6 linked regions of the Homo sapiens genome follow. The protein of the gene in region 1 interacts with the protein of each later gene in a pairwise test. Each region holds a gene or a part of one and is shown on either strand. Other genes may lie near its edges. The genes, in order: MSRA, FARSB, WDR44, CCNI, ARID2 and SDHB.

Region 1 (3,500 bases):
ACCAGGGAGCCTGGGAGATCTGGGCCTGCCCCAGCACCTCCCCTAACCCAGGAGGGGGCCTCTCCCTGGCCCCGAATCAGAACACCCCAGGCCTTTCTCTCCGATCCAACCCACCCCGGGCCCTTCTCCCCGTCCAGTTTAGCTCCGCCGCAGACCCTTCTCCCTGATCCCACTCCACCCTGGCCCCTTCTCCCTGTCCCTCTCCACCCCAGGCCCTTCTCCCGAATCCCACTCTATCCCGAGTCCTTCTCCCCATCCCACTCCACCCCAGGCCCTTCTCCCCGATCCTATTCCATCCCGAGTCCTTCTTCCCGTCCCACTCCACCCCGGGCCTTCTCCCCATTCCTGCTCCACCCCAGGCCCTTCTCCCCGATCCTATTCCATTCCGGGTCCTTCTCTCCATCCCACTCCACCCCGGGCCTTCTCCCCATTCCCGCTCCACCCCAGGCCCTTCTCCCTGATTCACCCCTCAGCATCGTCTCCCTCACCATCTTCTACCTTTTCAGCCTTTCCTTCCCCTCTGCGCACTATTTTCTTTGGTGTTGTTCATTTTTACCTGTTTCCCGAATGTTCCATTCCCTTGCACACGATCTCCAAGGAATGTCCTTTCCTCTTTTCCATCGCAGGAACTCCTATCCATCTCTGAGGACCCAGACCAAATGTCCCCACCTCTATGAAACCTGCCCGCTTCTTGAAGGCAGAAGCTGCTCCACATACTATGTTCGCGTGGCATCGCAATGCCCGACAGCGCTGATGACGCTGCATTACAAAAACCCTTCTGTTCTCCAAGCCACTTCCACTACCCAGGACTGTCTGTGTCTCTCCCTCATCTCGGGGCTTTGTGCACTGTGTGCAATTAATGAATGAATGAATGAATGAATGAGAAAATGAACTATGGATTCTTGGGATCTCCTGGAGATTCTCTCTGCTTCTGGATTCCACCTGGGTCCCTGTTGCTACCTCAAGACCCAGCACCTCCTCTAGGGCCTGGGAAGGAATGGTGGGAGGGAGAAGGGGACGACGGACTCAGGCAGCCACTTTCCGTGTCACAGAGTCCTGGCCAGTTCCATGGGCAGGTTCAGTCTTTAGATGGTGGCCCTGTGGTGCTGTGTCCTTGCAGGGAGCACAGAAGAATGCCTCTCTGTCATCCACGGCTCCTGAAAAAGCCCATTTGCTCTTCTGCAGGGAGAGTGGGGTGGTGCAGGAGCAGGGGGAGATAGGGGACGAAGACTGTCACCTCTGGGTTACAGATGGTTCCTCTGCTGCCACCCCCCCTCCCCGCCCCACCCCAAGTCCACTGGTCAACCTGGCACCGGGGCCAAGCTATGCAGGTGCCGGCATGGGTGCATGCCAGTCTCCTGAGCCCCCTTCCTGCACTATCAACACACACCAGGTGTCCCAGTCAGTGATGGGGCAGGGGTTCCTAGGTAGCGTGTTACTGATCATGGCTGACACACCAATGCTTGTGGTCATCTACTTTTCCTTAACGAATTGGAGCAGATGGAACGCCTTAGATCCGGATCTCGGTTTTACTGCCTCTCATTGGCCCTCAGGAGCAGGCAGGAGAGAACTGTCAGGAGAGCTGGAGAGGAGGAAGAGGGTGGGGACCCAGGTAATGCGCAGCCTGGTGGCCTCTCCCCTCTCCCGTCGTCCATGGGGAGGACCCATAAAAACGGCTGACCATTCGTGACTGCCGAGACAACTGCCCACATCACCTACTGAATCTTTAGGCGCCTTCCAATAAGGAGGCTGCACCCGTGACAGTGGGATGTCACCAGAAACACTGTGCTGGACAGAGGGAGGCAGGGCAGTGGCGCTCCGGCCTCAAGACCCAGGTGCCCTCAGGGGACTGTGCTCATCCTCCAGGCCCTATGGGGCCACTTTTGGGGATGGAGAATGAGTTCAGGTCATGACGGACTTGCCTGGTTGAAGTAACTGCCTAGATTGGTTCAAAAGCCTGGAAAGAGGTGCTCTTGCTGCTCAACCCCAGGGCCTGCCTCTGCATAGGGTAGCCCCGGCCCAGCTCCCTACTGCAGCCTGTGGGGCCAGGTACCCCCAGGGCTGTACTGACAGCCAGTCTCACATGCCCCTACCACGTTCCACTTCAGGGGAGGAATGACCTGAGCCTAGCTCCCGGCAACTTTTCTCTCTCTTACTGACTCCAAGTATCTTGACTTTTGCTTGTGGCATTTTTTTGTGTGTGTGTCTTGCTGACCTTTTAGAAAGAAGTCAGCAGGACTGCATACAGTAACACATGTGGGGCGACACCTGGCCCAGGGAATTTCTGGAAGGTCACCTAACAGAATTGGTCATTTGTGTTTTTCTCACAGACTCTTCCTCAATGACCCCAGGAAGCCTCCTGTGCCTTCCTTCTGTTGTCATTTTCTCCTTGGACTCAGCTTTTCTGCCTGTGAAATGGGCCCCTTACCTAGTTCACTGTGCTAGGACGAGGAATGCAGAGAGGGCACAGAAAGTGCACCATGCCCTGCCTGGCTTTTCTGTTGCTGAGACAGGGTCTTGCTCTGCCACCCAGGCTGGAGTACACTGGTGCAACCATGGTTGATGGCAGGCCCTACCTTCTGGGCTCAAGCGATCCTTGTACCTCAGCCCCTCCAGAAAAGCAGGGCCTACAAGTGCGTACACCACCATACCTGGCTAATTTTAATTTTTTTATAGAGACAGTGTCTCCCTATATGTTGTCCACGCTGGTCTCAAATTCCTGGCCTCAAACGATCCTCGCATCTTGGCCTCCCAAAGTGCTGGGATTACAGGTGTGAGCCACGACACAGCCTGCCTGGCGTGTTTTAACTACTGCAGAGTACTGGCTCCATTTCCCAAAAATCCCCACCCAGGGGTGAAAGCTAGCCTGCCTATCCTGCCCTCCTTAAGTAGCCCCCATTTCCACATTCCCCCATGGAATCCCCATTTCTATGGCTGAGCAGCAGATCTCTGGGGCAGGAAGGCGGGTAGGCATGTGTAAGTTGTGATGGAGCCCCCAGCCCCCTAGGCCTCATCCACCTCAGCTCGGTCTCCAGCTCCAGCGACTCATAGGAACACCACAGATGCACGAAAAGCAGCCGGGTCACTCCTTATGGAAGGCGTGCCAGCCGGGCACAGCAGGTCCCATCCGTCCTTCTAGGGCGGCCAGTAAAGAGCCTTTCTGGTAATAAATGTAATGAACATGTGATCATTCTGCTGACTGCAGCCTGCTAACAAGCTTACGATTAGGATCACCGAGATTCTCCAAGTGCCCGAGTGTCTCAGCCTATTACATGGAGGTGACACGCTCTCATACCACCCTGGGAAATGCAGGATGGCTCCTGGCAGCACAGGTGGCAGTGGGCACCAGTGGGCAAGGTTAGAAAGGCATTGAGACCCAGAGCCCAGAGTGGAGACCAGGACCCTGTGTTTGTCCAGAACAACAGTGTTTCCAAAGGGCTTCCACCCTCTATTCACGTGAACCTTCCATTGACTAAAATGTAGGCTTCTTATTCCTGTTT
Region 2 (5,567 bases), on another chromosome or scaffold:
CGCCACCGCGCCCGGCTAATTTTTTGTATTTTTAGTAGAGACGGGGTTTCACCTTGTTAGCCAGGATGGTCTCGATCTCCTGACCTCATGATCCACCCGCCTCGGCCTCCCAAGAAAGATTGATTCTTAAGTGTGCTAAGCCACAGCTATTTATAGTGACATTTAATGCATTTCTGATTATTTTCCTTCCACTTATATAAAATAGAAAAGACAGGATGTAAATCCTGAAGAACATAACAGTTACCACATCTTAAGAAATCTATCAAGCTTCACTAGGGGAATACAAGGCGAAGAGAGAGGTGGGGAGCAAGAGCTGAAAAACTACCTATTGGGTACTATGCTCACTACTGGGTGACGGGTTCAGTCACACTCCAAACCTCAACATCATGCAATATACCTTTGTAATTAGACCCACGCATGTACTAACTGAATCTAAAATAAAAGTTGACAAAAGGCCAAGCGAGGTGGCTCACACTTGTCATCCCAGCACTCTGGGAGGCCATGGTGGGTGGATCACTTGAGGCCGGGAGTTCGAGACCAGCCTGTCCAACATGGTAAAACCCCATCTCTATTAAAGTACAAAAATTAGCAAGGTATGGTAGCACACACCTGTAATCCCAGCTACTCGGGAGGCTGGGGCACAAGAATCGCTTGAACCCAAGAGGCGGAGGTTGCAGTGAGCCAAGATCAGGACACTGCACTTCAGCCTGGGCAAGAGAGCGAAGCTCTGTCTCAAAAAATAAATAAAAATAAAATAAAGTTTTTTAAAAAAGTAATCAAGCTAGATAAGTAAAACTGGGAGAAAAAGGTACATTTCGAATAAGCAAAAATCCATTAAGATTTACTGAAAAATCATTCTATGCAAATGAATTTGAATACCTCTTATTAAAAGGAACACCATGGGCAAACTTTAAAAGCAATAGGAAACTAGACCTCAGAAAATAAAATATAACAACTCATTACTACAATCCTTCCAAAATTAGTATAAGGATTCTTCAAAGTTCTGACCCTAAGTATAGATAAAGAATTCATATACTTGATATATATTACCAATTAGTTCTTTAATTAGTCTAGCTCTAATCTACAACATTAGCAGGTGGTTCTATAGATAAACTTTAGAATTTTTAAATTTAGTTTTAAACACTTTTAGAACTTTTAGAATTCTTTTTAGAACTAACCCAGTCCCTTATTTTTGTAGAAGTAAAAACCAAAATCCAAAGAAACTATTTCAAATCAGAATTCAGATATTATTTATAATAGCATTAACCTTCTTTAAAATATAACCTTCCAGTTCTAAGATTCCCCTTGATTCTAGAAGAAGACATGATTTTCTCTAAAATCTAGGTTAAAAAACATACAGACTTGCATATGCAAGAGAAACAGCACAAGAGCTTATCAGTATAAAAGAGAACTATTTAAAGTTATTAATAAGCAAAGATGTTATAATCTTAAAATGCCCTCCCTTTATAGTTAATATCCTAGTCTATAACACAAATCACTTAATACTCAATATTAAAGCAGTATCATTCTCATTTAAATATTCCTAACCTCTAAATGAAACTGCCAATAAACTTAGACAATTACAATAAAAGACATAAGCAGCACAGTCAAGAACTGATATAATGGGCAATTTCAAAGTGAATGACTTACGAAGGAACTGGGAACAGGTTTTGATTCATTTATTACAAATGAATGGAAAAGAGATGAAACCTGGCTAGGTGCTCATGCCTGTAATCCCAGCACTTTGGGAGGCTGAGGTCACTTTGCGGATCACTTGAGATCAGGAGTTCAGAACCAGCCTCGCCAACATGGTGAAACCCCGTCTCTACTAAAAATACAAAAAATTAGCCGGGCGTAGTGGCGGGCGCCTGTAGTCCCAGCTACTTGGGAGGCTGAGGCAGGAGAATGGCGTGAACCCGGGAGGCGGAGCTTGCAGTGAGCCGAGATCCCGCCACTGCACTCCAGCCTGGGCGACAGAGCGAGACTCTGTCTCAAAAAAAAAAAAAATTTAGCCAAGCATCGTGGCATGCACCTGTAATCCCAACTACTTGGGAGGCTGAGGCAGCAGAATCGCTTGAACCCAGGAGGCAGAGGTTGCAGTGAGCCGAGATCGTGCCACTGCACTCCAGCCTGAGCAACAGGGCAAGACTCTGTCCCAAAAAATAAAAATTAAAAAAAAAAAAAAAAAATGAAATCTGAAAATAGTATTAAAAAATCAATTATGAAATGGAAAGTTCAGACAAGAGAGATTGGGCCAGATAATACAAAGCAAGTAAGAACCCAGTATGAAGTTAATCAAGAAGATATTATTTTTAAAAGTGTAAAGAATTTTTGGCAGCAAAGCACGTAATAACCAACTATAAACTTACCCAAGAAGATATTATTAAAAAGCTCTAAGATTTCACCATCTCAGGTATAATAACTGAAGAGACTTTTCCTAACTCATGTACTACCTCTAGGTTTTTACATGAATTCTCACCTACTTAAAATTCTTACCTGAAATTCAGCTGTTTTAGGATTACTTATGTGGACTGCCTTTGTTGCAGAGATATCCACACCTAGTTTATCAGCAATATCTTCTTGGGAGCACTGTGAAGTACACACAAAACAGATTAATATGGAAAAGCAATTACTTAAGTTTAAAATAAAAAGTAATGCTGTAAGTCAACTTCTAAGAGCAATTTATATTCTCTACACATATCAGCAAGTTAAGAATAGGCCTGGTGTGAGCTGAAGTAAATGTAATAATAATAATAATAAAAAACAAACAAAAAAAGAATAAGCTAACAATAAATACACATCAATCTCAGGCCCATAGCAGATGGAATTTAACATTAATACTTCTTTCACAATGAGTCCTAGCCATCATACAGAGCTAAAGTAAATTTTTCACATGGAGATGGTATAAACTGTACTCGGGCCCTTCCTAAGCTAGTTTCCCATTTACCTTTCCAATCTAATCTCCCATGATGCCCTAGCCATTCCCTAAACCTTATGTTTCCCTACCTTACCTGAAATGTCCTCCCAGCCTCACCTGCTACCATTCCCTAAGGCTGACTTAAATGACCTCTCTTCCATAATATTCCTAATGACTCTAGTCAGAAACTTTCTCTCCCTCCTTGGTATTTCATGACTTTCCATTTTGACTACCATTATAACCCTTGCTAAATCCATACTGACTTGTGGCAGAACAGTAGGACTGACAACAGAATTCAAGTGACTGGAACTCTGCCCAGTGTTCTTTACTGTATCACTTAACTTCTGTGCACATGCCTGAAACTCATAACAAATAAACTGCTGAGTACCCACCAATCGAAGAGAAAGATGCTTGCCACCCTCAGAAACCAGCATTGTAGGCAGAAGTTATGAAATTAAAAACTCACTGACGATTAGATACATCAAGTCTAATAATAAATGATATAATGAGATAATGCAAGTATGGTGCCTGGCACAGAGTAAGCACTCAAAAAATACCAACAATGATGATAACTGACAAATCATTACTAAGGATAAATTATTATCATGTATATTAATGCTAGCTTTTTGAAAAAGCATTTAAAACGTAACACAAAAACTGATGTACCATCAGATTATTGTACTATTGTCCAATGTTAGGCAATATTGTTCATTATGCTGTTCTACAACTAGTTTTCAAAGGCTAGTTGGCCTGTATTTCACTTATTAAAACAAAATGATACACATCAACTGAAATGGTAAAAAGAATTCATTTCATGTCAATGTCAGTTCTAGTGATTCTTGCCATGCTTTCTTGAGAAAGATCCTGAAGCCACATCCAGCCATAGCAGAAAACAGCTCCCGGATCTGCTACAGCTGCTGAGATGGAGAATGGTGACATGCACACTGGGGATAAGCGTTTTCCCCACAGCATAAAGAAGTTTTACAGCAAGACTTAGGTATAATGTGACTGATTAATTATGAAATGCAACTGACATGAAGCAATCTATTCTCAAATGAAACTAGTCCTCTCTGTGTAAAAGAAAAACACTCTGCAGACACATGGCAACGCAGCTGTGTATCTGAGTGAACTTGTATTTTATCATGGCAATGGATAATAAGGGATAGTGACAAGAGGCAATTTAAATTAAGCTACCCTGAAGTGGCAGTAGTTAGTACACAGTAAGAAACTTTTTTTTGTTTGAGACAGAGTCTCACCCTGTCGCCCACACTGGAGTTCAGTGGTGCAATCTCGGCTTGCTGCAACCTCCACCACACCCGACTAATTTTTGTATTTTTAGTAGAGATGGGGTTTTGCCATGTTGGCCACACTGGTCTCGAACTTGTAGCCTCAAGTGATCCGCCCGCCTCGGCCTCCCAAAGTGCTGGGATTACAGGCATGAGCCACCATGCCTGCCAGGAACTTTTTTAATGTTAATATTTATGTGTTTATTTTAATGTGTTAGAAAAATACAACAAGTAAATGAACCTTATAGTTTTTACAGATATTATTCCTATAACAAGGCTGAAGTACATAAGCCAACTTAAAAGTGAGCCAATTTAAAAGAAAATATTACAACTACTATGCAGATATAGCAAAAATCAATATGATGAAGTGTGAATTATTTACACTTAGAAAGTCAGAGACTAGGCTTAAAAAAATGGCTGTTACTCTTGTGCAAAACTGGATTTAACAACATAGACCATCTTTGCTCAGCGATGCTTAGGCTTGCCTATAAACATCTTTATAAACATCTTTAATGTTGAAATTCCTACAGGAAAATTTAGTACAAATCTGAAACCCTCTAGGAGCTCACTCCTTTCTCTTCCCCCCAGTGATAAACATTGAATGTATTAAAGTGACTTTGGACAGCTAAACAGACTGTTTCTAACATCCCTGGTGTGACAGTTCAGTCACAGGCCTTGGATGCAGACAGGCATGGGCGGGAATCCCTGATCCACAGCCATGGCGTAGGACAAGTTACTTAAATTAACTGCTGTGAAAGACAGGAATGCCCACTTCACAGGAGTATACTGAGAAGAAATGGAATCATGTACACAAAGCCCTTGGCACAGGGTAAACATTCCCTGCAGAGCAGCCACTAGTCAAGACTCGGCCTCTGTGCTCCTTCGAAGACACATGAGGCTCTAAGGTCACAAAATCAAACTGGCAATGGATATTGTAATAAGTATAAAGTATAAGTATAAAAAGGATAAAGTAATAAGTAACTTTTTTCAAACTGGCACCACTAATATAAAAGGGCAGGGAAAAATGCATACCCAAGTTTTAACAGCAGTTGTTTCTGGGGAGGAAAAGAGGATTCGAAGTGGGGAAAAGAACTGTTATGGTTTAATCTACATGGTTAAAGTATGAGTCCTTTAAAATAAGATGTATTCCTGTGACACTCATATGTTTTAAAAAATAAAAATATATTTTTCAATGTTATTTTTGGTACTTCATTTTATATGAAATCCTGGATGCTCACAACTACAAATGTGTGTATATATATGTGCAAAGATGAATGACATGGCATTACAGACCTAGTGTACACGGTATGAGACCATGGAAAAGCACTGTTCTAGGAGGCTAAAGGTCAGGACCCTGCTCATGA
Region 3 (5,423 bases), on another chromosome or scaffold:
TGCAGTCCCAGCTACTCAGGAGGCTGAGGCTGGAGAATCGCTTGAACCAGGGAGGTGGAGGTTGCAGTGAGCCGAGATCACGCCACTGCACTCCAGCCTGGTGACAGAGGGAGACTCCATCTCAAAAAAGAAAAAAAAAAAAAAAAAAGACCAAGGTGAGCAGATTGCTTGAGGTCAGGAGTTCAAGACCAGCCTGGCCAACATGTTGAAACCCTGTCTCTACTAAAAATACAAAAAGTGGCCAGGTATGGTTGCACACCTCTGTAATCCCAGGAGGCTGAGGCAGGAGAAGTGCTTGAACTCGGGAAGGTGGAGTTTTCAGTGGGCTGAGATTGCACCACTGTACTCCAGTCTGGGTGACACAGCAAGACTCTGTCTAAAAATATATATATATGGCAGGCGTTGTGGTATGTACCTGTAATCCCGGGTATTTGGGAGGCTGAGGCAGGAGGTCTTGAGCCCGGGCAACATAGAAGACCAGCCCGGGCAACATAGAAGGACACCCAACTCAAAAAATATATATATGATTCTTTTTTAATTTTTAAATCGATTGCATAATAGTTTATTGACTGTATTGTCTCATGCTACAGATTACAAACAGGTCATAAAGCCACAGGAATAGATACAGTGTACAAAGAGTGCTTCTAAAGTATTTGAATGGTAAAAAGTTATCAAGTACTTTAATCTCAAGTAATTTTTTTGTAGTATTATTTGGACTATCTACTCCACTCATGACACTTTTCCTTCTGTCTGTGAAGAAAAATTTTGATAACAAAGATGAACTTCAGTCTAGCATTTCTTTCAGTACAAGATACAAAAATAAACCAAGTTAGAATGATTAAACCTTTACTAAATGCCTGTTTAACTGCTGTCTGTTTTCTTTTTCTTTCCTTCTCAGAATCACATCCAGCTTCTGTCTTCTAACTTAAGTCATTTACGTTTTTTCTTTTTTTTTTTAACTTATGAATGAATGAATGAATGAATGACATGGTGTCGCTCTGTTGCCCTGGCTAGAGTGCAGTGGTACAATCATAGCTCACTGCAACGTTGAACTCCTGTGCTCAAGCAATCTTCCTGCCTCAGCATCCCGAGTAGCTAGGACTACACGTACTACCATGCCTGGCTAATTTTTTTTTTTTTTTTCTTTTTGCTAGCAATGAGTTCTCGTTATGTTGCCCAGGCTGGTCTCGAACTTCTAGCCTCAAAAAGGTTAGTCCTACTTTGGCCAAAGTACTGGGATTACAGGCATGAGACATCATACCTGGCCTTTTTTTCTTTTCTTTTCTTTTTTCCCCAGTGCTACCTTTTTACATTCCATATACTTCCCCTGCATATTCCACAGGAAATTCTAGCTTTTAAAACAATTTGAGGAAAAGTAAAAAGTACAGGGTTTTTTTTAACTTCTCAAAAATATACCACATTAACAAGGTTCAGTTAACTAACTGGGTCCTTTTTTAAGAGGCACAAATTTTAGTGGATTGTACTCAGATTTGTGTTTGTCATTTTGTACCCATGTAGGTGTAGTCTAAGAATAAGCTCTCTTAAACCCAAAATGTGGGATCACAAAATATATTCAATTCCCCTCTCTCTTTGTTCCTGACGTGTTTGGCAATTCAAGCCTCAATTTTCCTTATGTGTAAAATAATGATGATAACCTAGTTTATAGAGTTTCAATAAGAATTAGATATGACATGTATAGGCTGGGCATGGTGGCTCATGCCTGTAACCCCAACATTTTGGGAGGCCAAGGCAGGAGGATCACTTGAGACCAGGAGTTTGAGACCAGCCTGGACAACATAGCAAGACCCTGTCTTCACAAAAAATTAAATAATTAGTCGGGCACAGTGGCGCATGCCTGTAGGGAGGCTGAGGTGGAAGGATCCTTTGAGCCCAGGAGTATGAGGTTACAAGAAAGCTATGATGGTGCCACTGCATTCCAGCCTGTGCAACAGAGTGAGACTCTATCTAAAATATATATATATATATATATATATATATATATATATATACTTGTATGTGTAAAAGTGCCTAGCAAAATGCCTGGCATGTAGTAGGCATTATTGTTATCATTTTCATTATTATTGTGTCTTACAAAGCATTTTATATGTATGGTGAATTATTTTCTTCTCTATCCTTTCTCATATTCCTAAGTTCTTTGCTGCTGCTACTACTGCACAGCACTGCTGTGAGATATGCCAAAAGGGTGGTAAAGGAATGTTCAAAGGCTTAGGATATGTTTTTAGCACATCTAAGTGAAACCATTTTGTGTGACTCATCCTGTCCACAACTTTCCAATTAAAGTTTGGATTATTTTCTTCTTTTTTAAATCTCAAATTAAAATCTCAGTTTTCACCTATGTATAATAGAGTTAGTTAACACTGAATTTTTTTATTAAGTGCTTTTATGCAACTGGCAAATGTAAGAGGTAAGCATTTATGCCATTCAGCATAGTTATATAGCTTTTCAGTAAGGACCATATGGCAAAAGGTGCTGTCAGCATTCACACAGCAAACGTGTGTACTTCATTTCATGGCAGTTTCAGTATGTCTGCTATACAATAAACCTTACTGGCAACCTCGCTAGACACCCCTGTTAGCAACAGACTTGCCCAGCTGATCCGATTCTGCCAGCACTCCAGTCCTGGGGCTGAATGACACACTAGCTTCTTGCCATGCAATGAAGCATTAGATGACTTAGATGCCTAGGCTGCCTAGGAATAGGTCCAAGCATCCAGGCCCCAAGAGACTGTAATATCCTCAAGCCAGGGAAAGACCAGCTAAGACAAGGTAAGTGAAAGTGAGCCTCAGAGCAGAGGAGAGATTCAGCAGAATGAAAGAATTACAGGAGCCAGCCAGAAAAGGAGACTGAAAAGGTGGGGAGATGATCTTCTCCCCTGAAGCTGGAGGGTCATGGGCATGTGATAATTGTGGCAGCAGGCTTCATATTCCTTTAAAAATCAACTTAAAACTATTTTTTATACTTTTAAGGTATTATGAAGACAGATAACACAGAAGTTCTTCTCTCTGCTGACTTCACTGGAGCAATCAAAGTGTTTGTTAATAAAAGAAAAAATGTATCTTAATTTGAAATGGCATTTAAAATAAACATATCAGTAAGTTTCTATATGTATCAAAACTGAAAAAATAGTGTTCCAGGCTAACATACTTTTTTAATTTTTATTGAAAGTTGTTCAAATATAATATATTTTTTGAGAGGCAGTGTTAATGATCTAGGAAACCCTGGGCTGATAGAGTAGAAAGGAATATGGCTAGAATAACATTGCCAAACATTAGGCTTTATGTTTTGTTATGTTTGTGTTTTCGTTGTATAATTATGAACATGCACAAGTTTCTGCATGAAAAGATATTAATATATTAATCACATGTATGTGCCTTTTGGTTACATGCATTAAATCTAACAGAGTTAAATTATTTCAGTGGCTCTTTTGGCCTCTTACTAGGGGGGATAGTCTTGTTTCTAGCTTAAACAATTTTTTTTTTGCACAAAATTTCATTTTTAATAAAAGTGGTATCTTTTGACTGAGTTATTGTTTTGAAAATGGTATATAGGTTTCCAGTAGGTCAACAACCATATGTAAATGGTTTTTATAAATTTCTCAATTTGGGGACAAGATTTTTTTGTGGTCTAAATTGTGGGCTTAAGATTCTTTTCTTTATATGTGTACATATAATTTTTTTTTCTTTGCCACACTGGAGCACAATGTTTCTATGTAAAGAATTATTTTCATTCTTTATCCATGAGCACCAGGCTTTGCTCACTTAAAAAAAAATTAAGCCACATTAAGGAGTGAGTCTTCTTTTTTACAATAATGTAAAAATTAAACTGTTTACATTTTTTTAAAGCATTGTAGTTTTTAAAAATTAAGCTGTTTTGTTTTGTGTTGTTGAATTTGAAAGCCTTTGTAAATATCAATATAATGTACCAATGAAATAACATCTGGGGCAATGAAACCCTGATCATGTTGTTGATGGTTAGCATATGTTTCTGAAAATTAAATATGTATTATTAAAAGTTGGTCTCCAACACTTGTTTAAACATGACTTTATTTTTAATTGACTTCAGTAAATCAAGGAATGCAAGAAAAATAAACTCTTGTTTTAATCATTTAAATTTTAGCAACAGAAGACCAGATTTTAGATCCCTAAATTATAATGCATTAGTTACATGCCTTAAAATTTTTTTAATTCTAGCTTTAAATTGAACAGTGCTAAGAATTCATCTATATGCTTATATGTTCTTTACTGCATTTGTTTTCAGCATGTAAGTGAGAAGTTGGGGAGCCACGGACATATCCTTGTTGATTAGCACGGTCTTAGAGTGTTCTAGGCTTTCTAGTAAATTACATATTATTTGTTGCTTTCTTCTTGCCAGTGCTGTGCTTTCTCCCTCTACCCTTCCCCCTCCCCTCTCCTCATCTCTCTGGTTGCTTTGGCTTCCTCACTCTCCTGTACTCTCCCTGACTGAATTGTTATGCCATTGGCTTTCTAAAAACCAGGCACAGTTTCTTTAATCTCAAGGTCTGGGTGGCATTGTGATTGATCCAGTGTTTCTTTTTAAAACTTGATGTCTTCAGCTCTTTGAGGCAGCTTGGCTTTCACTAACTTCTGCCTGAGAACTTGTAGTCGGCTGTGGTGTTGATTGTTTTAACTGCAGATAATCAGGGTATTATTATATGACTATCTCGTGATAGGTTTTATGTGGTTACTTGACCAAAAAGACAAAACGAGTTGGGATGCAAGCTTAAAAGCATAATACTGGCCGGGCGTGGTGGCTCATGCCTATAACCCCAGCACTTTGGGAGGCCAAGATCACCTGAGGTCAGGAGTTCAAGACCAGCCTGGCCAACATGGTGAAACCCCATCTCTACTAAGAATACAAAAAATTAGCTGGGCGTGGTGGCGGGCACCTGTAATCCCAGCTACTCAGGAGGCTGAGGCAGGATAATCGCTTGGACCCAGGAGGCGGAGGTTGCGATGAGCCAAGATCGCACCATTGCACTCCAGCCTGGGCAACAAGAGCAAAACTCTGTCTCAAAAAAAAAAAAGCATAATACTGACACTTGTTATTGCTATATGAATACACTGAATTTAAAAGGTAGCATCAAAATATATAGAAAAAAAGAACACTATTTCTCTTTAAAATGAGTTTTAGATATTCTCTATAACGAGTGATATGGTATTATTAAAAAAAAAAAGATCACAGGTTCTAGAGTCAGGTAAACTTGGATTTGCTTCCTTCCCGTTAGCACATTCCTTGGGCAAGTTATTTATCCTACATTACTACTACTTCCTTATCTGTAATATGGGAATACCTAACTTAAATTGCAAAGATTTGCTAAGAAATCATGTATGTGTAAAGCTTGGTGCCTAACCAGTAGGTATACTCAACAGATGTACATTTCT
Region 4 (5,567 bases), on another chromosome or scaffold:
GAGAATGGCATGAACCCAGGAGGCGGAGCTTGCACTGAGCTGACATCGTGCCACTGCACTGCAGCCTGGGCGACAGGCCAAGACTCCGTCTCAAAAAAAAAAAAAAAAAAAAAGTTAGCTCTAGACACACTTGATCTTGCAAGTGTACTTTCCTTCCTTTCATTACTGCTCTAAAGCTTTTTAATAAACTTTCTTTCCTGTTCTTAAAGTTAGCTCTGATCTAAAAAGTAATGAGTGGCAGTCACATTAATTGAATTCCATAGTATTTTGTGTATACCTGTCTCATCTGCATATCTAGGTTTTTAAAACAGTTACAAAAAGTTAAATTGTTTTTGAAAAATCACTAAAGTTGCTTTTTCCCTCTTCAAAATTTTAGGCTCATCCAAAATACTTGAGTTGTATTGCAATCAGCTGTTTTTTCCTAGCTGCCAAGACTGTTGAGGAAGATGAGGTAATAAATCCTTTCAAGATAATGTTTCTTCCGTGAAAATTTCTCTCCACATTTATTAACTTGCTTCGTTTGCTAAAACAAAAATCATAAATGAGTTTCTTTTCTGTCCTTTTCTCCCTGTCCCTGTTCCCCTTTGCTTTGGATAGAGAATTCCAGTACTAAAGGTATTGGCAAGAGACAGTTTCTGTGGATGTTCCTCATCTGAAATTTTGAGAATGGAGAGAATTATTCTGGATAAGTTGAATTGGGATCTTCACACAGCCACACCATTGGATTTTCTTCATATTGTAAATATACCTGAAGTCTTTTAGTTTCTTATTTGAGTGTGTAGTTTTCAGTAAATTAAAAAATAGATTGCCTACTCATTTATTTTGTACTGGAAATAGGAAAAAGAAAACTTGATATCCAAGGAAAAATTATAAATTAGTATATATGTCATATCACTGAAGCTTAATTCGCAGACTTAGAAATTGAATAGGTTAGGCTGGGCGCGGTGGCTCACGCCTGTAATCCCAGCACTTTGAGAGGCTGAGGCAGGCGGATCACTTGAGGTCAGGAATTTGAGACCAGCCTGGCCAACATGGTGAAACCCTGTCTCTACTAAAAATACAAAAATTAGCCGGGCATGGTGGCAGGCGCCTGTAATCGCAGCTACTCAGGATGCTGAGGCAGGCAGGAGAATTGCTTGAATCCAGGAGGCGGATGTTGCAGTGAGTTGAGATCATGCTACTGCACTCCAGCCTGGGCAACAGAGTGAGACTCTGTCTCAAAAAAAAAAAAAAAAGAAATTGAATAGGTTGCATCAATTTCTATATGTAATTTCCCAGATATTTAAATAAAGTTAAAATGATGTTCTTGTGATTTTCAGTTCCATGCCATTGCAGTGTCAACTAGGCCTCAGTTACTTTTCAGTTTGCCCAAATTGAGCCCATCTCAACATTTGGCAGTCCTTACCAAGCAACTACTTCACTGTATGGCCTGCAACCAACTTCTGCAATTCAGAGGATCCATGCTTGCTCTGGCCATGGTTAGTCTGGAAATGGAGAAACTCATTCCTGATTGGCTTTCTCTTACAATTGAACTGCTTCAGAAAGCACAGGTAGGTGTCAGTCTAATTAAATAGTGTTCTTTTTAAGTTTTTCTATTATTGGAATACATAGAGTTACCAAACTAAAAGACATTTCTCATGTTGTAATGGCAAACCATTCTTAAGAGTAGACAAGAGTAAAGTATATATTTTAAATTTACGGGCTAGGTGATCTCTTTTTTTCATATAAAACTTATATAGTATTTTTAAGATTCCTTTTAACCATTTCTCTTATTTTTAAGAATTCTAAAATGTTCATAAGATTGTCAATACCATATTGTCCTTTAGTTTTTTGTAAAGAAACTTCCTAGCTACATCTGTAGGTTTTAATGTAGTACTTCTTTACTTCACTCATTTTATAACGGATGTCAGGAACAAAAATTAGAATAAGTTGCTTTTTAGACAAGCAAATAATTTATTGTTGGCTAGTAAGTGAAGTATTTATACCAAACTGGCAGGTAGAAGCCACTTTTCTGAAAGAGGTTTTTCCCTGGCAGTTCCATTATTACCTAAGATTAGTTTGTAACTTGTATCTACAGATTATTATAAAATGTATAGGTTGATAAATTATCAACTACCTAAGTAAAATGTAAAGGTTCAGTGGAGAAAATTCTCATTCAAATGGAAAGTTGGTGAGAGTGCTGTATGTTAGCAACTACTTTGAGAGAAGGCTTACTGGTTCTATTCATGTCACCAAATAGAACTTACCGAGTTTAGATCTGCTGCAGACCATTTTCCTGCCACCTGAATCCATAAAAGACTCATGAACCTACTTTCCCTTTATATGGCTATTTATTCTTATTTAACAGTAGTTATTCTGATTTGTTTTATTGGATTTTACTTAGAAGATTGTGAAATTCTAAGCTTAACATTTTGCAATAAACTAATTGTAGCAAAGAACTGCAGTTATTGAGCTAAAAATTTAGATTATTATAAAAGAAAAACATAATAGTTGAATTTGGTGTTTTTCTAAGAAAGTTATAATTGATCTTATAGCAAACATTTTAAGAAGTATGTCTGAAGAAAATGAACCAGGCAAAAAAATAATTTTTTTTTTAAACAAGTATGTCAGTGCTTCCAAGAATTTTAGGCTCTAGTTTGTGAGCAGAGGGGAGCTCAGTCTTTTCATAAAAAGGTTGATGATCAGAGCAGTATGTTAGCTAGAGATCTACCTATGTAGTGTAACATGGGCTGTTTTTTGTTTTGAAGGGATATCTTAATTGTCTTAGATTAAAATAATTAAATGCTGTAATGAGAATAAATCCTAGGAGGTAGTTGCTACTTAGAATTTTTAGAAATTATGATAAACCACCATTTAAATGAATAATATGACACAGAAAATTTACTTTGCTCACCCTGGAGTGTTAGAAAGAAAAGTTGAATATTAATCACTCACATTAGACTGTGAAGTAGAGGAATAGGCTTAATAGAAAACCTCCTACATTACATTATTTTTATTGGAACAAATGACATCTCTCTAAATGCCTTCTGACTTATTCTCTGTGCTTACTCTCAAGATAGTACAGAAAAAGATTGCTTTAAAGTGTTAGTGTCAGAGGACAGATTTTGAAGCATAAATAATAATGTTGTAAATAGCATGTGTATTCTGTAGCTTTGAGATCATGTTTTCCTAGTGAAAAACACTGGAAAATCTGATACTCTTTTGTAAGTTTTCTGGTGCTAGAGGAAGAGAGTATTCACTGAAACTTTTTTTTCTTCTTAGCTGAAGGAGTATTGCAAACCTGGGATTTGACAGAATCTTTGGAGAAGTTATTTCATTCACCTCCTTTATTTTATAGCTCTGGTGTAGGGAACTGGAGACTTTCTTAGAGCCGTGTAGAGCTACTTAGTAGTGATTTAAAAGAACCAATGCTTTTTTTCATACCACACAAACCTTAAAAATTCTAGTTCAGTGGTTTTCATAATTTGTTTTAGAAGTGGAACCCTTTCCCAGTCCCCCTTCCCCAAAGAAAATCTTGTACACACACAATCCCAGAATATAGAATAGAAGAACGGAGCTATACTTGTGTTTAAGGGCAGATCTCCACTCAACATAGCGTTTTCCCTTCCATAGCTAGAAATCTACCTATGTAGTGTAGGTTTAGATTATATTATGTAGGTAGTCTTTGGACGTAGTTTGAAAACTGGAAATACAGTGAATTTTTTTTCTTTTTAAGAGATATGCCCCATGTAGTATATAATTGCAGTGGGGAAGTTAGTGAAGAAAAGGAAGGTCATAAATCTTGGTAGAGACTTTTGGGACTTGTTCTAGCAGTTCTCTAACACCAACCCATGTGGTCCAAACATGGATGGCTCCTAGTTCTTTAGGACTCATTTCTGTTTTTGCTAAGTTTGCTGTGTTCAGGTAGGGAACACCAGGTCTAATATCTTTGTGTTTAGACGTGTGACAAGGCCACAATATCAGATTTCTTCCTAGTTTTCTGGTTTTAATATAGGAAAGTCTTGCATCAGATTGATGAGATCATGCCAAAATTATTTGCGACATGATTCCCAGTGTCTTGGTTTGAGGAGAGTCCATCACAGACATACCGTGCTGTGAGGAGGCCACTCTCACTAGTTCTGCCTGAGCCCCCACTTTGAGACAAAGTATGGTGAGTGTTCCCAGGTTTGAAAGGCAATCTTCCTTTTGTCCCTGTTAACCTCCCACTACACCCCCTTAAGCTCTTGCGCCACCTGTTGGTCACCATTCTGGGATGGCTAAACCTCTTTCTCTCCTTAGCCTTATAAACTCAGGCTGTTAACTCTACCTAGATTAGTGTGGTGGTCTTTGTAGTTCCTAGCTGGGCAGTAGTCAAAGTACATGTTCTAGTTTAAAACTAGAGTAGGTGCAGCCATAAAACAGAACAAAATCATGTCCTTTGCAGCAACATGGATGCAGCTGGAGGCCATTATCCTGAGTGAATTAACGCAGGAACAGAAAACCAAATACCACACGTTCTCACAAGTGGGAGCTAAACGTTGGGTACACGCGGACATAAAGATGGCAACAGTAGAAACTGGGGACTACTAGAAGGGGGAGGGAGGGAGGGGAGCAAGGGTTGAAAAACTGTTGGGTACTGTGCTCACTACCTGGTTGACAGGATCACTTGTACTCCAAACCTCAGCATCATGCAATATATATCTAGTTAATAAACCTGCACATGTACCATCTAAAAGTAAAAAGAAGCAAATTTAAAAAAAAAAAAACAAAAAAACAGACCCCTCCCCACCAGTCTCCTGGTTCTTTTTGAAGGTGGCTGTGGTCAGACTATTCCAGCAGGTTCCTCAGTGCTTCATGCTGTTCATCAAACCTGGATCCATCTGGACCTACCATTTATGTCATTTATTGTTATAAAAAATAATACATATTCTCTTGACACCTTATAATTAGAGTTCATTTAAGTCCTTTTTATCAACTCCATTAGAGTACTTGTCTGGTGTCGAGAGTTTTGGTAGTTCCAGTATATGTGCTTGTTTTGTTTCTTCCACTGGATCTCAAGAAGGAACAAATTATTTTGGTGTCTTATAGAACAAATTCAGATTGTACTAGATTAGAAGGAATTTATTTTGATGTTATTTTGGAGAAAAGACTTACTTGGGACTTGGGTGGAAGTGGAGTTCATATGGATGGTTTTGTTTTGAATAATTTCTAAGGTCTTTTAGCTCTATCATTTCTTGTCAGTCTCCCACCGCTAAAATATAACTCTATTTACTTCGTTTTTTCACACAGAAAGATTATAGTGACATAGTCTTCCTCTTACTTAAATACATGTCTTTTTAGGATTCTGCCATAGTATTGATTCTGCCATGGCATTTATTATGCCCAGTGACCAAGGCATTAGAATATTTGTGGTACCTTTACCTTTTTAGGCCAATAAATATCATTCATTTGCTAAAGAACATTTCATTAAACGAGGTACAGTTGGCTCTCCATATCCATGGGTTTGGCATCTGGATTCAACCAACCGTGAATTGAAAATATTCAGGAAGAAATTTCACAGAGTTCCAAAAAAACCTGGAATTTGTGGC
Region 5 (5,567 bases), on another chromosome or scaffold:
GGCTTGGTTTCACTTAATGAAGACTAAGAAGCTTTAATTATACCTACAATATAATTTTAATTTCATGTCATCCCTTAAAAGCAACCATTTTGTTCCTCTCCAGCTGTTTTCTGACACCATTTTCTAAATTTTCTAGAAACATGAATGAAGATTGAAAAAGAATTTTGCTGTGCAGCCTTCCATATTTAGAAAGGTACTATGGAGAGGCTGGGCGCGGTGGCTCACGCCTGTAATCCCAGCACTTTGGGAGGCCAAGGCGGGTGGATCACAAGGTCAAGAGATCGAGACCGTCCTGGCCAACATGGTGAAACCCCGTCTCTACTAAAAATACAAAAATTAGCTGGGCGTGGTGGCACACGCCTGTTGTCCCAGCTACTTGGGAGGCTGAGGCAGGAGAATCACTTGAACCCGGGAGGTGGAGGTTGCAGTGAGCTAAGATTGCGCCATTACACTCCAGCCTGGCAATAGAGTGAGACTCCTTCTCAAAAAAAAAAAAAAAAAAAAAAAAAGGTACTATGCAGAAAAGGCAAACAGTAATAGTCAGCCTCAGTTTATCCTTCTAGTTGTTTCCCAGATGCTTCCCTCTCTTCCTGCAATACTATATTAACATTTACGGGGTGTGGAGCTATGTATTGTTTCTATTTTAGTTTTTAAACTTGCAAAATTCATGATAAAGAGTCATCGCTGTGACCTTGGAGACTGACAATCTTCTATATGTTTTTTTGCAGATTGTTAAAGAGACATGAAAATAACTTATCAGTGCTAGCCATTAGTAACATGGAAGCTTCCTCCACCCTTGCCAAATGCCTTTATGAACTTAATTTTACAGTTCAGAGTAAGGAACAAGAAAAAGACTCAGAAATGCTGCAGTGAAAAATAATTCCACTTACACAGTGGGGGACTCAAAGTCAGCCACATTTCACATACTGTTACTGAAGAAAGCACCAAGTCTTAATGGAACAAAGACCATAGAATGAATTATTTTATCTCCTCCCATGATGCTGAGAGGAAGCTTCGTATTCTGATCTCTGAGTGAATCCCTTTGTTCTCTGTTTAAAAAAATCTAAAAAGAAAAAGGAAAAAAAAAAAAGAACTGCTGTGGGATTGTCAACCAGCTTATCTGCAGGATGTTTCAGATCTGATAAATCCTGATGGAAACTGGTATGATCAGAATTCAGTACCATCCACATTGGAATATACATGGAATATTGTAAAACCTACATGAGCAGATGAAATAGAAGCATTAAATATTTTTATCTATATCCAAAAAGGAGCACATTTTTATATTTACAAAACCGTTTAAGCTGGTTTGAATAATTTAAAAAAGTTTCAGCACACCTATACCCCCGATCTCAGAGGGGGCCACCAATATCTAGCTATGGATCGTGTGTTTTGTTTAGAAATCAGTAGCTTGGTTTTCTTACTTGAGCCAATATATTTTCACTTATTTATTATCATAAAAATTTACCAGTCTGAATAGATCTTGTAAATATTTGTGAATAGAATGAATACCTTTCATGCCACTGCAGCCACTGGAAATACATTCTGTGGTGTCCTAGAAGCATTATTGGTAGGTTCTAAAGTTTTCTAGACTTTCCTGTCAATTGTAAGTAATTGTGATATATTCTATGCAGTGGATGAATGTTCTTTAAATTTGTGTAAATACTTCTGCAAAGGTACTGATGCTGTAAAGTCAAAACAGTTTTGTGGAACTGTGATTTTTTTTTCTTTTTTCTTTTTTTTTTTCTTTTTTTTTTTGTATTATACACCTTGTAGAACTCATTTTGCTGGCTGAAAGAGTATGGAATAATATATCTCATGTCATTTTTTAGAAGAAAAACTATTTGAAGGTATTTTTTGGTTTTCCTTAACATGTATCCACTGTAAACGTTTGTCGTGTACAAGCTCAGAGCTTGGACAGAATTTTTTGTATTTGTAAATTGGTTTAAATACATGGAATTTTATACAGGTTTTCTCCTGTGTTATATATGCATTATGTGCAGGTATGATATTTTCTTCACTACTTTTTCTATCTTAATATAGTGTGGAATTTTATTGTATTATTCTTCCATTCTTAATACTGTACCACATTCCTGCTCAGAAACTGCTCACTTCCTTAAATTGTCTTTTTTCCCCCAGCGTGAAATGTATCCATTTATAACTGCCTATTGCCTGTTCTATTAGCATCCAAAAATGTGGAAGGCCTCCCAACCACCATTTCTGCTGTGTCCTTAGGATGTGCAGTAAAAAATATAGACCTAACAGTTTATGTTATAGAATGGCTTTATTTACTTTGGTGACTGTTTATAGTTTTTAAATAAAAGACTGAACATTTTCTTGAGTCCTTCATTTCTGAGTATGCTTAAGACATCTTAAAAATATAGAGAGAATTCTAAATTCAGCTGAAGGCAAGGTATAACGGTCACCTACCTATTTGATTATATGTTGATTGATAACATATTAAATAGAGAACAAATAAGAGAGGTCCTTTACATGACAAATTTGCATGAAATAAGCAGATTAACCAAGTATTTATTTTTCATCTTGTTATAATGCAGAGCAAATGTAGAGAACAGCAAATGATTGATGCAGTTAAAGCTCAATATGCCTTTTTTTACTGGATACTGTACATTTGGCTAAAAGCTTTTATTGTTTGATGTTGTGTTTCTTGACTGTTTATTCAGAATCACAGTGTATCCAAATCTTCAGCTTGAATTTGGAGGCAGATTCTTAGAGTGAAAAAGCCTCAGTTTCCATATTAAAAATGTTTTAAATATTTTGATTGAATTAGTACCAATGTAAAATCTAGTTTCTTCCTGAAGGAGGATCCCTGGCGCTGTCCTGCCATGTCTCAAAGGAATGTTTGAGAAACTTCATCTAATATTAGTTATAAGGTTGTGGAATTTATGCTTGGCCCACCTTCCAAGACTGGCACTGCCCAACAGACACCGCTGAAATCATGTGGGTATCCCTAGGATGGCCTTCAGAGCCCTCAAACTTACAAGCACCTGGTAGTTGACATCATATGGGGAATTTTCTATTCACCGTACTTATCCAAAAATCTCTTTTAAAAAGTAAATTTGTGCAACAACGTTTATTTGAAAGATAATGTCTTCTCAAAATCAGAAACTGCAGTGGTAATTAAATTAATAGAAAAGAGAACAAACTGCAGGTTTAGAAAAATGGTTTTCATATTCACCATTCTTCCACCTCATTGAATTGCATGCTGTAGTTCTAGCTTTTCTGCTATAATATGTAAATATGACTGTAGCCTTTTAAGCTTCAGTCTCAGCAGAGAATTTCCTAAATGCGTTTGACCTAATGAAACTGATCATGGCTTCCCACTTAGGTTTTTCTTCTTATAGCTTTATAGAACTATATAATAATATGGACTTGCTGTGTAATGGAATTAAAGTGCTTTTGCACAATAAGTTCTGCAAAACCCTCTCATTCATGAAAAGGTGCTCCTTGCTAGACAGAAACTTGCTGATTTACAGTATTGTTATTTTTGTCTAAAGTTCTGTAAATACATGCTTTAATGTTATCTTTGAGAAATCTATGTAAATAATATAGTCTACAACATAGAGACTGTATAATTCTGTGTTATATATGTGCCTAGTGCTCTGTTGGCACTCAATAAATTTTAAGTAACAAAATTGATAATCATATAGCGAAGGCATATTTTTCTTCCAAGCTCAAGTCAGGATTGTGACTATATATTAATGAGACTCAGTAATCCAACCCACACCTGAGAACTCGTCTCATTACTTTATAGTCATGTCATGTATGTTTTTTTAACCATGAAATGACAATAAAATGATTTTTAAAATGAGAATGTTTTGGATAAGTGACTTCTGTCCTGATCTTAACCACTGCTGTTAAATACCAAACAGAGGAAACATGATGCAAAGCAGAAGCTGCTAAAGAGCAGAAGTGGAGCTATGGGGTTAACCACGTGGGACACCTGGCACTGTCACTGTTACCAAATAGTAAGTTAAATGAGAACAAAATCCAGTATCTATTAGGAAATTTTAGCCGATCACTTTCATACTGCTTGACTCTTCTCAGACTCATACAGCAGTCAGTCATACGACAACTACACTAGCCTTCTCCAGAGGCAACAAAACAAATGAAGACAGTACCACTGTCTAATTACATTACTACACTGGTATTTGTAACTCTTTCATTTCAATTATATAGCCTCATTTCCTATTGGTAAAAATTAAGTCCAGGATTGCCTTGTGTGTGGATAAGAAACACTAAGACACACTGGCATATACTTAAGTAGATCCATTTACTTTGATTAATAAGACTACATTTAAATATTAAAAGAAAAGGCTATTATTAAGTCAAGTCCTGGCTCCTGTGGATTTTAGTCTGAGATACAACCCACATTGTATACATTTATTTAAAACATAAACTGCCTTTAGAAAGTAACTTAATCAAAAAGTTAAATTATATGAAAAGCCTCATTCCCATCTGCTTCACCACCCGTGTCCCCCAACCAGATAACCACTGTTCACATTTCTTGAGTACATCTCTGGTGTTGATTACATACAAGTGAATTCAATATTTTCTCTTTTTTACACAAAAATATGTCATACCATAAATAATATGCCGTACTTTCTTGAAATTTTAATATTTTAAGTTTATTCCATATTGGTACATAGCTTTCTCATCCTTCTTACAGCTATACAATATAGTTTTCCATTGTATGGGTATACTATATTTAACTAGACCCCATATCGATGGACATTTAAATTGTTTCCAAAATTTAAGGTGCTGTTTTAAACTAGTCACTAATACTTTGCTGAACACTACTCTGTCAGGCACTGTGCTAAGCATTTTACATGTATTGTTTCAGCCTTCACAACAGCCCAATGTAATAGCTAATATTTCACAAGTGGGGAAAAGAGGGTTAAGATGAGTAAGTACCTTGACCAGGTTCTTAACAGCAAGTAAGTGGTTAAACTATCCAGCTCCTCTGAAGCCTAGTTATGAAGAGTAATTGGGAGAATTCTTTCCTCAGAGAGTCAGACTCAAGGCCAGGAGTCTGCTAGTATAAACACTATGTACCCCTAATTTTGGTGTGGATCTTTTCGTTTGTATTTGCCTCATTGTTCCTAGTATTTTCTTTCTTTGCATTTTGTCTTTTTAAGATTTTCCATAATTCTTCAGATTTCCCAAGTATTTCATTCATTAACTTGGCACCACTTTATACAGCCAGAAAAATTTTCTGGAAATACCCTTGACAAAGGGCCATTTCTAAGACAAATATTTATAGTAAGTTGAAACCACAGTTTCTAATCAACTATCCGTCTGGTGCCTAGTTCAAACAACCATCTGCTGACTCCTTTGGAAAGAGTCATACTCCTTAACAATAGTATGATGTTAATAGGATTTTCCCCAGCGTACACCTTTAAATCACCTTCAATGCACAATACTGTTGGAGTACCTATGCTGCTGCTTTGGAAGGCGGAGACATCCTGCTCTGAAGGTAGCCCAAACTTACAAATAATACCCAATACGATAAAAGATAAAAACATGTGCCATAAGGAAATTATAAA
Region 6 (4,473 bases), on another chromosome or scaffold:
AGGATACCCCTTTATTTTTAAAATCTTTTTTGGTATGTTAAGAAAAAAAAGAGACAGGGTCTCACTATGTTGGCCAGGTTGATCTTGAAGTCCTGGCCTCAAGCAATCCTCCCACCTTGGCTTCCCAAAAGTGCTAGAAGCCACTGTTCCAGGCTTTTTTTTTTTTTTTTTTTAAAGGAATGGGGTCTCACTATGTTGCCCAGGCTGGAGCGCAGTAACTATTCACAGGCGCAATCATGGCAAACCATAGCCCCGACCTCTTGGGCTCACGTGATGCTCCCACCCCAGCCTCCTGAGTAGCTGGATTAGGGGCACACGCCACAGCTCCTGGCTCTATGGTACCTTACTTTTGAAGGGAGAAAGTTTTATATATGCTGCATAACTGTAATAACGTAGAGTGTGGAAGGAAATGTCTAAGCTATCAACGGGATGAGTTTGGAGGAGCTTCCACTTTTACTTTCCCCCTTTCTCCTTTTTTGCATTGCTTTTTTGTTTTGTGGAGACAGGGTCTCACTCTGTTGCTCACACTGGAGTGCAGCGGTGTGATCTCGGTCACCGCAACCTCCACCTCCCAGGCTCAAGTGATTCTCCTGCCTCAGCCTCCCAAGTAGCTGGGATTACAGGCACGCACACCCACTGCCCAGCTAATTTTTGTATTTTTAGTAGAGACGGGGTTTCACCACGTTGGCCAGGCTGGTCTTGAACTCCTCACCTCAAATGATCCTCCCGCCTCAGCCTCCCAAAGTGCTGGGATTACAGGCGTGAGCCACCACGCCCGGCTGTGCAGTGAGCATGCCAGCCAAGGCAGCAGTGCTGTGGAGTTGATGTTTGCAGTGAGAGGCCCCACGAGGTCATTTGTGGAACTAACTGGATTCACAACTGACCAGGGTCATTGCTCTGTGCTGGAGGAATCTCAAACCTGGCCTCACCGACGTATCCAAAGACTTACCAAGATTTGGTTTTCAGTAATTCTGGTACTGAAAACTATAGAAACTGGGAAGATACAGAACACTAACACTAACTGAGTGTTCAGAATAAGTGCCAGGCATTCTCATACCAGATGAATGAAGTAGGCACAATTATGGATCCCATCTTACAGATGGGCGAATGGAGCAGCAAAGAGGTGAAGGAACTTGTCCAAGGTTGTCTAGCTGGTGAGTGGCAAAGCTGGGAACAAGCTGCAGGCCCTGCTGATGTCAGTTCCACGGCTCATCACCTCCTTCCAGCTAGGGTACCCCCACCCCCGCTCAGCTCTGAAGCCCTGTCCATCTCTCCAAGGACAAGGACTCCTGGCACCTTCACATTCCCCTGCGGCAAGTAAAGGAACAGGTTCTTTTTTTTTTGTTAATAAAGTAGAATAACATTTATTTCTTAAAATTTTTATTATACATGCTGTATTCATGGAAAACCAAGATCTTTAAAGGAACTCAAATTAGATATAAATTATGTTCAGCTCTGAGCTGGTTATAAATCATGTTTAGCATGGAAACAGTTAAACTGAAGCTTTCTTCTCCTTATAGGTTGCCATCATTTTCTTGATCTCTGCAATAGCTTTCCCTGGATTCAGACCCTTGAAAAAAGAGAAAAGAATCAATAACAAATGATAACTGAAACTGAAAGGGAAAACCCACAATCTTGGGTGAAACTCCTTCCTCAGCTGGTTCAGTGTCCAAGCAAGGTGAATGCAAATCAAGTCCCTCAAAACCATAGGGGTTGGGCTAAGGGCTCTCTTCTGTCTACCTTTTTTAACATTTGAAGATGGTCAGCTCCCTCTGGCAAGAGCTCTGCCACGTTGAATTCCTTCTTGTGTGGCTCACTCTAACAGGTAAACAGGCCCAGGGCAGAGGTGCACTCTCTGACTGCTCAAAGACACTCAGGGTAGTGTCTCTTCTAGGACTACAGGCCAATGTCAAAATCAGCCAGACATCTCTAAATCTTTTACATCATCATTATTAAATAGGCAGCAGCAGAAATCAGCATATACCAGCTCTCAAAAGTATGTGGAAGAAACTACCCTCTCTATTAACCCTTTGTAAAACCATGATGATTTCAACTGGCCAATACCATTGGTATTAGCTGCAGTTTGCCCCTACAGCTGTTAACATCTGCTTTGCAGGAGGCACAATAATTAAACCCACTGAATGCCAGCTTCATTGAAGTAGAAAGTAGGAAGTACTTTACCAAGTACTTGCTTTTACCAAGCAAGTACTTGGTAAAATGAGACAAGTACTCATCTGACGTTAGTGAAGGTTCCCCTCATTTTAGAAGGATAAGTCTACCCCCCTAAAAAAGTGTTGTGGAAAGAAAGAAGAAAAGGAAAGAAAGAAAAGAGATCTTGAGAGAAGAAGAGAAAGAAAAAATATATATTTTTTTGACAGGGTCTTGCTCTGTCATCCAGGCTGAAGTGTGATCATAGTTCACTGTGGCCTGGAACACCTGGCTCAAGTGATCCTCCGGCCTCAGCCTCTCAAGTAACTGAAACTACAGGTGCGTGCCACCACACCTGGCTAATTAAAAAAAATTTTGTTTGTAGAGATGGGATCTCACTATGTTGTCCAGGCTGGTCAAAAAGACACTCTTCATATACCAACATGGGATAATCTCCAAAATATAGTGGGTGAAAAAATACAGATAAATGTGATATAAGAAAGACAGAAGAGGACACATATGCATTTGTGTGCAGCATAAAACACCTCTGAAGTTCACACAAGAATCTGACTTCTAGGGAGGTGGCTGGGTGGAGTGGGAGGGAGAATTTTCACTGTATATCCTTCTGAATCTGGATCTACCTGTGTATTTCCGGTCCCCACAGGGTCAGTAAGGGTGTTTAGACTTAGAAGGTTGGTACATACCCAATCCATGCAGGAAGAAAGAGCACTGGATGGGGAGGCAGACGGCCTAACTCTAGTCCTACCTTCCCACTGACCTGACAGTGATCTGGGGCGAGTCACTCCCCTCCCCACCTGGGGCTCAATTTCCCCATCTGTATAAGGGGATTAAACTTGATGGTTTTCAAGTCCCTTCCAGTTTCATGATCGGCCTATGTCTATGTCTCAGTCCCAACTTCCAGCCCTGTTTTACAGAAGGGAGGGCAAGGCACAGAGAACCTGTTCTTGGCTGTCTCAGTTGTCTGCTGCACCCATCCCCTCCATGCACAGGTTTGTGACCAGGAATGCACCTTAGAGTCACTCGCAGAGCTTCTGAAGAAACACACAGCCAGGCCCCACCACTGAAGATGCTATCTCTGTCTCAAACAAGCCCAGTACTCATGTTTTTTTAAAAAATAACATAAGGTGACATTTATTGGGTGCTTACTATGTGCCAGGCACTGTTCCAAGCACTTTTATAGCATAACTTGCCTCAGAGGTCAGTAGCTATTCACAGGCACAATCATGGTAAACCACAGTCCTGGGGACAGGACCCAGATGGAAGCCCAGGCAATAGGGAGCTGAAGCCTGTGGGCTCCCCCAGCGAGGCCACTGGAAACACAGAGGGTTTCCAGGCAAAAAATAAGTGAATTCTACAGCTTGGATTTCATGTTTTCAAACACACAGTGTGATCTTTTTTTACGGCTAACTGGCCACCCTACAGTTTTCCACCTTGCCGCCCACTGACTCACTGCAACTTTTGAGTGAAATCACCCACAGTCTTTGCTCGGAGGGCAGCCGTGTTCTGAACCACACAGCCCTAGCCCTTCCCTGCCCACTGGGCAAGGCTGACTGGACCAGGGCTGACACCTGCTATGGTTTGAATGTGTCCCCAAAAGCTCATGTGTTGAAAACCTAATCCCCAATGCAACAGTATTGAGAGGTGGGACCTTTAAGAAGTGATTAGATTATGAAGGCTCTGCCCTCACAAATGGATTGCCATTATCATAGGAGTAAGTTCCTGATAAAAGGATGAGTTTGGATTAGTCAGGTGTGGTGGTGTGTGCCTGTAGTCCCAGCTACTCAGGAGGTAGGAGGATCACTTAAGGCCAGCAGTTCCAGGCTGCAGTGAGCTATGATTGCGCCACTGCACCCCAGCCTGGGCAACACAGTGAGACCCTGTCTTTTAAAAAAAACAGATGAGAGGGGCCGGTCGCGGTGGCTCACGCCTGTAATCCCAGCACTTTGGGAGGCCAAGGTGGGTGGATCACCTGAGGTCGGGAGTTCGAGACCAGCCTGACCAACATAGAGAAACCCTATCTCTACTAAAAATACAAAATTAGCCAGGCATGAGTGGTGCCTGCCTGTAATCCCAGCTACTCGGGAGGCGAATGCAGGAGAATCACTTGAACCTGGGAGGCGGAGGTTGTGGTGAGCTGAGATCGATCGTGCCATTGCACTCCAGCCTGGGCAACAAGAGCGAAACTCTGTCTCCAAAAAAAAAAAAGGCTGAGCTTGGGCTCCCTTTCTCTTGCCCTTCTGCCTTTTGCCATGGGGTAATACAGCACGAAGGTTCTTGTTAGATGCTGGCGCCAGCCTCTAGAGC

The links.
Region 2: the proteins of MSRA (region 1) and FARSB interact in a two-hybrid assay, tested with the Homo sapiens proteins (one large-scale study listed by BioGRID).
Region 3: the proteins of MSRA (region 1) and WDR44 interact in a two-hybrid assay, tested with the Homo sapiens proteins (one large-scale study listed by BioGRID).
Region 4: the proteins of MSRA (region 1) and CCNI interact in a two-hybrid assay, tested with the Homo sapiens proteins (one large-scale study listed by BioGRID).
Region 5: the proteins of MSRA (region 1) and ARID2 interact in a two-hybrid assay, tested with the Homo sapiens proteins (one large-scale study listed by BioGRID).
Region 6: the proteins of MSRA (region 1) and SDHB interact in a two-hybrid assay, tested with the Homo sapiens proteins (one large-scale study listed by BioGRID).

What each region holds. Positions count from the first base shown.
Region 1 is NC_000008.11:10,421,292-10,424,791, reverse strand, and holds part of MSRA (mitochondrial peptide methionine sulfoxide reductase isoform a precursor), read right to left. Parts: intron 1-3,500. UniProt on the Homo sapiens protein: Has an important function as a repair enzyme for proteins that have been inactivated by oxidation. Catalyzes the reversible oxidation-reduction of methionine sulfoxide in proteins to methionine.
Region 2 is NC_000002.12:222,617,149-222,622,715, forward strand, and holds part of FARSB (phenylalanine--tRNA ligase beta subunit), read right to left. Parts: intron 2,590-5,567; coding exon 2,497-2,589; intron 1-2,496.
Region 3 is NC_000023.11:118,445,906-118,451,328, forward strand, and holds the end of WDR44 (WD repeat-containing protein 44), read left to right. Parts: intron 1-2,987; coding exon 2,988-3,082; 3' UTR 3,083-4,056; downstream 4,057-5,423. UniProt on the Homo sapiens protein: Downstream effector for Rab11 which regulates Rab11 intracellular membrane trafficking functions such as endocytic recycling, intracellular ciliogenesis and protein export.
Region 4 is NC_000004.12:77,051,133-77,056,699, reverse strand, and holds part of CCNI (cyclin-I), read left to right. Parts: intron 1-376; coding exon 377-451; intron 452-597; coding exon 598-738; intron 739-1,319; coding exon 1,320-1,550; intron 1,551-5,567.
Region 5 is NC_000012.12:45,904,206-45,909,772, forward strand, and holds the end of ARID2 (AT-rich interactive domain-containing protein 2), read left to right. Parts: intron 1-728; coding exon 729-873; 3' UTR 874-3,832; downstream 3,833-5,567. UniProt on the Homo sapiens protein: Involved in transcriptional activation and repression of select genes by chromatin remodeling (alteration of DNA-nucleosome topology). Required for the stability of the SWI/SNF chromatin remodeling complex SWI/SNF-B (PBAF).
Region 6 is NC_000001.11:17,017,389-17,021,861, forward strand, and holds the end of SDHB (succinate dehydrogenase [ubiquinone] iron-sulfur subunit, mitochondrial isoform 1 precursor), read right to left. Parts: intron 1,571-4,473; coding exon 1,493-1,570; 3' UTR 1,334-1,492; downstream 1-1,333. UniProt on the Homo sapiens protein: Iron-sulfur protein (IP) subunit of the succinate dehydrogenase complex (mitochondrial respiratory chain complex II), responsible for transferring electrons from succinate to ubiquinone (coenzyme Q).